Homo sapiens: one gene and its partner. The gene in region 1 interacts genetically with each later gene. Each region holds a gene or a part of one and is shown on either strand. Other genes may lie near its edges.

What was found. A genetic interaction does not mean that the proteins touch.
Region 2: changes in PBRM1 (region 1) and UMPS together harm fitness more than expected from each alone (negative genetic interaction), as found in Homo sapiens cells (one large-scale study listed by BioGRID).

What each region holds. Positions count from the first base shown.
Region 1 is NC_000003.12:52,605,803-52,609,455, reverse strand, and holds part of PBRM1 (protein polybromo-1), read left to right. Parts: coding exon 1-143; intron 144-3,653. UniProt on the Homo sapiens protein: Involved in transcriptional activation and repression of select genes by chromatin remodeling (alteration of DNA-nucleosome topology). Required for the stability of the SWI/SNF chromatin remodeling complex SWI/SNF-B (PBAF).
Region 2 is NC_000003.12:124,740,435-124,744,087, forward strand, and holds part of UMPS (uridine 5'-monophosphate synthase), read left to right. Parts: intron 1-1,717; coding exon 1,718-1,832; intron 1,833-3,480; coding exon 3,481-3,650; 3' UTR 3,651-3,653. UniProt on the Homo sapiens protein: Bifunctional enzyme catalyzing the last two steps of de novo pyrimidine biosynthesis, orotate phosphoribosyltransferase (OPRT), which converts orotate to orotidine-5'-monophosphate (OMP), and orotidine-5'-monophosphate decarboxylase (ODC), the terminal enzymatic reaction that decarboxylates OMP to uridine monophosphate (UMP).

The DNA.
Region 1 (3,653 bases):
GCTGTGGATCCCAACTTTCCTAACAAACCACCCCTTACATTTGACATAATTAGGAAGAATGTTGAAAATAATCGCTACCGTCGGCTTGATTTATTTCAAGAGCATATGTTTGAAGTATTGGAACGAGCAAGAAGGATGAATCGGTATGTTTTCAAAGCCATTTTTATTTTGAGGATATGTGCTATTTAATACAAAACAGATGAAAGAATATTGCTTTGATGTACTATTTCCACTTACATACATGATTTGTAGTTGGTAGCATGCTATTCTGAATTCTAATCAGCCAGAACTTCTTAAGAGTGAGTATATTCTGTGGGGGAGAGAAGGCACACCACTAAGTCATCTAGTTTAAGGCCAGTGAGGAGGAAGACAAAATTGAAAATCTCTTGAAAAGCATAAACTTAAAATACAGCCTTTCATAGAATGTGTTTTTTAAAAAGATAAATGTTTCTAATTGGAAATAGTAACAGCGTTTTTCTTTTAAGGTTTGGCTTCAGTGCACGAATGCTTTAAATAAAATAGCTCTAAGGTGTTGTCCTGAGGTTAGACTGATAGAAATTTGATCACCATTTTAAGTACCTCAGAGGGTTTCTTTTTTTTTTTTAATCTCAGGTTTCTCACCTTAAGAGCTTGCTGAAGACATTAAATGTTCTAAAAGAAGCAATCAAATTTAGATTTACTTTAAACTTAAATTTCCTTCTAATTTTTATCTGTGATATATCGTTGCTACATGTCAATAGCAGACTTGACTATTAAATTCAGCAATTACAGTGTATTTTATATGTGCACTTAGAGACAGTTGGAAAAATATAAAAAAAAAAAAGATACAAACCTTACCTTCCTGGAGCTTACAGCCTATCATGTTTAGAACTAGACCTTCAGGCAGTGTAATGCCAGCTGGGGAATCTATGAAATCAGAATTTGCTCTGAACCTTTAAAGAAAAGCAAGTAGTAATGTTTGCTTTCAGTGTCTTTGCAAATAAAAGAAAAAAAACATAGTAACATTTGCTGCTTGTGTTAAGCACCAGCTCTTCGTAAAGCACCATGCTAAGCACTTTATGAAGGCAATCTCTAACCCTTATGATAGCCATTCTAGATAAGTGATAATCTTTTCAGTTTGCATGTGAAAGAATTAGAGGCATAGGCAGAGAAAAGTTACCCATAGTCTTACAACTAGTAAATGATGTGACTTGTCTTGCTCTCCACTGCAGAGGGCTACTCCTGAGCCAGTTACCAGGACAAGTCATGGAGCACGGCCATAGATGATAAGCCTTGAGCTCTGTGCTCTAAAAGCTTGAAGTCTGATGGATGGGCCAGGACTTACGCTTAAGGGAAAAATAATTCCACACATGAGACAACATGCCACAACCTTATATTTAGTAAAGATGGTGATGTAAGGAACTCTGTGGGCCACAGTTCTCCTTAAAAGGCATGGGATGATAGGTAGGGTTCAAATGAATAGGCCAGAGGATATTTCAAATAAGATGAATGTTATGAGCAAAGAAATGGAGTTAGGAAATGAATATGATATGTTTAAGAGACAGGGATAGAGTTGGGGCCAGTTTGGTGAGGCCCATGTGTGACACTTTTAAGAAATGGTCCTTAATAATATGGTTCTTCAGCAATTGAGTAGAAATAAAGAGAAGGATGGAGGGACATCTTGCAGTCAAAAACTCTTGGAGTTACTCATTTATTCAACACATATTTATTGAGAGGCTACTTAATGAGCATATTCTAGATGCATGTAATACACCAGTGGGCAAAACAAACTCTGCTTTCATGTAGCTTAGACTTCTTTCTGTTCTTGTTCTTGGCTTAAGTAGTCCTTAAGTCTAATACCCCTCCCTTCCTCTCCTCCCTGCTTAGCCCCATTACATCTTGGTGTTAGTTCTGTGAGTCTTTCAATGAGTATTTGTCTTCTAGATTATTAGGAACTTCGTTTATGTCTTATAGATGAAATGTTTATTTTAAGAATTAAGATTTGTATCTCTAGGAAATTAGCTCTTTTCATTCTCCCATTGTTGACATGGTTGTTTTTTGCTTTTGAGGCCTGGAAGATAGAGTCCAAGGTGTATTTTTATGAGATAGTGATGCACACAGTTTTACCCTCATGCCCAGAGCTTTGTTGAAAAACAAAAGGGATCCCTGGTAATTTAGTAGTTAGGAAAAATTTTTTAAAGAAAAACATACGGGGAGCCATTCTTAACTTTGTGAACAAAGATAGTATTGTGATTGCTTATAGTACTTATTAAGAATAAGTACTTAATAAGAATTGATGGAGATGCATCAATTTAGTGAATGATAAACTATGCCTTTATCTACTATATTATCAGTAACAAAGCTAGGCATCCCAGAAATATTAGTTCATAAATTCAATGAAGTCTACATACCGTAGATTTCCATGTTGATCTCTAAGAGTCTTCATGCTTCATCACCATTTACCCCTACCCCTACCCACCACTGCTACCCAACATCACCTAGGACTTCACAGGCTAAAATAGAAGGAATCTGAACAGTGAGACGTAACAAGAGAAAAATTCACTCAGGTGACAATAGTTTGTCCATCAACAGTATTTAGTAACAGCACAGTGCTGACTCATGCCAGTTGGCTGCTGGCTTTCCTAAACTGCTGGCAGTATTCCCAGACTAAACACTCTGATCCCCTTGCAGGTAAAAGAGACCTGTGGGAAGATGAACAAGGGAAGCATTAAGAGCCTCCTGTATTCTTAATTATTTCCTTTTGCTGAATGTCTGCCTTATATAAAAAGATTACCAATTGAGGGGAATTTAGAGTTCTTTTTCCAGCTTGCGTTTATGTTCCTGCACATTCAATGAATACCTGACCTCGTAGACTAATAAATTCTTTATAATGCTTTGAATAAACAAAAGCATATACTAGGTGTTTAGTGACTCTTGTACAGAATGTTCATTTCTAAACCATGCGATATGATGGAATTATGATCTGCCCTTTTAGTATACCATGAAAGGTATTTACAAAAATTTTACAAAAATTTTTTACTTTTAATTTACAGAAATTTTCACTTTTTATACTTAAAATTGTACACTATTATAAAATGAACTTTAATTTCAAGTGAACAGAATTCAAATATCTTCATTCAGAAAACAAACATAAAATTATGTTTTAGGGGCCAGGTACAGTGGCTCACACCTGTAATCCCAGCACTTTTGGAGCCCAAGGTGGGAGGATGGCTTGCACTCAGGAGCTTGAGACCAGTCTGGACAATATAGCAAGACCTTCCTTAGCTCTACTTAAAATAAAATTTAAAAAATCAGCCAAGCTTGGTGACATATGCCTATAGTCCCAGCTACTCGAGAGGTTGAGGTGGGAGGATTGCTTGAGCCAGGAGATTGAGACTGTAGTGAGCCATGATCGTGCCACTGTACTCCAGCCTGGGCAGCAGAGTGAGACTGTGTCTCAAGAAGAAAAAAAAAGTGTTTCAGGGGTGTCTTCCCTTGGTAAGTTTTATTTTTATTGCTTTCCTACAAGTATTAGCATTTCTATGACCCCAAAAGATATTTAAAACCTTTCCAAGGCCGGACACAGTGGCTCACACCTGTAATCCCAGCACTTTGGGAGGCCACGGCGGGCGGATCACCTGAGGTCAGGAGTTCGAGACCAGCCTGGCCAACAT
Region 2 (3,653 bases), about 72 Mb from region 1:
CCCAGATAGTTAGTCAAACAAACACTTACTAAATCTACCAGGACTTTAAGATAATGTCTTTTTCATCTTACCATGAATTGAGAGAAGATGAGAAGAGCTTCCCAGACATGCAGTTTCTCAGAATCTCCCAAGTCCTACAGAGATGCACATTCCCATGACAGCAGCCCACATGCAGTGGCTTTCTCTTATTCTTGTCAGATATTTTAGAATATAATATTACTTTAAAAAAATTGCCATAGGGGGCTGGGCGCAGTTGCTCACACCTGTAATCCTAGCACTTTGGGAGGCCAAGGCGGGAGGATTGCTTGAGGCCAGGAGTTGGACGTCATAGTGAGATCTCGTCTCTACAAAAAAATGAAAAAGAAAATAACCAGGCATGGTGGTACGTGCCTATAGTCCCAGCTGCTTGGGAGGCTGAGGTGGGAGGATCGCTTGAGCTTGAAGTTCAAGGCTGCAGGGAGCCATGATCATGCCACTTTACCTCAGCCTGGGCAAGAGTAAGAGCCTGTCAAAAAAAATTAAAAATAAAAAGCCCCAAGAAAATCCCCATGATTTTTTTAAAAATGAAATCCCCAAGACAATCCCCATGTGAAGATTCTAGAAGTAAAGGATTTCCATTTTTTCATATTATTTCAGACTATTTGGAGACTTAACTCATATGGCCCTACAGTCAGGTTTTAACCCTATCCCTGAATTGACTATAACTGTCTGATTTCCCAAGTCTCAAAATCACAGGGGCCATGAGTCAGTTTTAATATTTGGCATTCTGGGAGTCTGGGTCTGGCTCAAGGACAAGACATGACTTGTTTGTTGGCAGTAGTACTTGGTGGCAAGAATGAATGTATCAATGTGTGTCTCAGGTCTCGAAGTACCGAGGCTGGAGTGCAGTGGTGGTACTGAGTCTGGTCTCCGGGAAGTATCAAATAAGAAGGGAAGTATGGGAGTCACGTCTCGGGGAAAGTACCTACCGAATCAGAAAGCCAGGCAGACCTTCTAAAGAGACTTTTATGAATGTGAGATAATAGTATAGAAATTGGGGAGACCAGTTGATGTTACAGAAGAGGGAAAGTGGTAGAGGTGAGATTTCTTTAGCTCTTGAAAGCGTAGCTGTTCTTTACATGACAGCTGCCTTTGGATATGGAGTACCCCGTCTGTAGATAGTCAGTAAGCCTTGAATGTGGTTTCATACCATTATAATATGTTCTAGAGTACTCGCCTCAAATCCTTTTTGGAAGTAGGTGGGTCACCAAGCATTATTAGAAATAAGAAATTATGCAGCATCTTGATTTTAGATGCATATAGTATAGGATTTCTGCTTTACGTATGGTTTATTGCGGGAAGGGAAGGGAAAGGGTCATCTCAGAGTCTTAATGAAGCAGATGTGTTTTATTATGGTTTCTATCTAAGATGACCTGTTTCAGATATAGTAACTTTATATATATGGAATGAGAAAAGGCATCTATAATACAGCAAAGTTTCTAACTAGATAATAGAGCATAAGCCAGGCATGGTGACTTACAACTGTAACCCCAGCACTTTGGGAGGCCAAGGTAGGAGGATCCCTTGAGCCCAGGGGTTCAAGACCAGCCAGGGAACATAGGGAGACCTCATGTCTTTTTTTTTTTTTTTTAAGTTTTGAAAAAATAGAGCATATTTTTACTTTTATTCTGTGTGATTAACTGTTTTCTTATAATATGTCCTATTACATTCCATTTAGGTTAGAATGGCTGAGGAGCACTCTGAATTTGTTGTTGGTTTTATTTCTGGCTCCCGAGTAAGCATGAAACCAGAATTTCTTCACTTGACTCCAGGAGTTCAGTTGGAAGCAGGAGGTAAATCTGGTCACTGGTCGTGGCTCTTCCAAAAATGCTTCTTTACCCATGGCAGGCAAAATAAAACTTTGCATATTATTATACACTTGCTTAAGAAAAGCCTTCTTAGTCTAGAACAATAATGAATGAGCCCTTTGGTAACTATGTATCTTTGGACAAGTCAGTTTACTTCTTTTAGTCTAATTGTCTGTAAAATGGGGATGATAACAGTATTGACCTCATAAGGTAATCAAGATGCTTTAATGAGATAACATGTAGAATATTTAACACAATGTCTTGGCACAGAGTAAACACTCTGTACTTATAAGCCCTTATTCGTAAGCCCTAATAATTGTTTGACTAGATATTATAGTTAGGGTCTAGGCTTTTAAGAATACTTAAAGTATCTTGGATTTGGAAGATAATAAGCCATTTAACAGAATGCTTCTGAAACAGCGGAATTTAATAAAAAAGCAAAATTTAAGGATTCGGGTTTATGGATAGTCTGTGTGACCACTTGATGGGGTTCTTGTATATGGTAGTGGTCAGGTTAGACTTGCTCAGCAGTGCCTTGTGGTGATTCTAAGATGTGTGCTAAAATTTTCTTCAATTGTGAGGCCAATCTTTATTGTATTTTTTTGATATTGAACCTTTCTTTGCAACATATGAGTTTTACTTCTTTTTTTAATATATTGTTAAGCTACAGATGATCTAAAATTTGACATTGAGGGGGTGAATATTTAGGGCAACTTGAATTTATGCTTCTGGAAAAAAATTACATGAAAAAATAATGATAAAATAAATAAGGCTGGGTGCGGGGGCTCACGCTCGTAATCCCAGCACTTTGTGAGGCCGAGGTGGGCAGATCACCTGAGGTCAGGAGTTCAAGACCAGCTTGGCCGACATGGTGAAACCCTGTCTCTACTCAAAATACAAAAATTAGCCGGGCGTGGTGGTGCACGCTTTTAATCCCAGCTACTCGGGAGGCTGAGGCAGGAGAATCGCTTGAATCCGGGAGGCGGGGGTTGCAGCGAGCTGAGATTGTGCCATTGCACTCCAGCCTGGGTGACAGAGCAAGACTCTGTCTCAAAAAAATAAATAAATAAATAGGGCGGGGCGCAGTAGCTCATGCCTGTAATCCCAGCACTTTGGGAGGCTGAGGCGGGCGGATCATGAGGTCAGGAGATCGAGACCATCCTGGCTAACACGGTGAAACTCCATCTCTACTAAAAAATACAAAAAATTAGCCAGGCGTGGTGGCAGGCGCCTGTAGTCCCAGCTACTCGGGAGGCTGAGGCAGGAGAATGGCATGAACCTGGGAGGCAGAGCTTGCAGTGAGCCGAGATAGCACCACTGCACTCCAGCCTGGGTGACAGAGCGAGACTCCGTCTCAAAAAAATAAATAAATAAAAATAAATAAATAAATAAATAAATAAAATAAACTTTACCATTGAAAAGGAGTTGGTGATCATCTTTCTCCATTTGACGTCTCTGGCCTACCCAGTGAGTCTCTTCAGCTCCTGTTTTTACGCAGTTGCTGTACAAAAGGGGAACGAAAGTAGGGGCATGTTTTTATTTAAAGCTGGTTAGATACTTTTTCAGAGAAGTCATGTGACAGGTTTTCTGATTTTTGTATTATGTGAAACAACAATTTTTGTGTTTCTTGCAGGAGATAATCTTGGCCAACAGTACAATAGCCCACAAGAAGTTATTGGCAAACGAGGTTCCGATATCATCATTGTAGGTCGTGGCATAATCTCAGCAGCTGATCGTCTGGAAGCAGCAGAGATGTACAGAAAAGCTGCTTGGGAAGCGTATTTGAGTAGACTTGGTGTTTGAGTG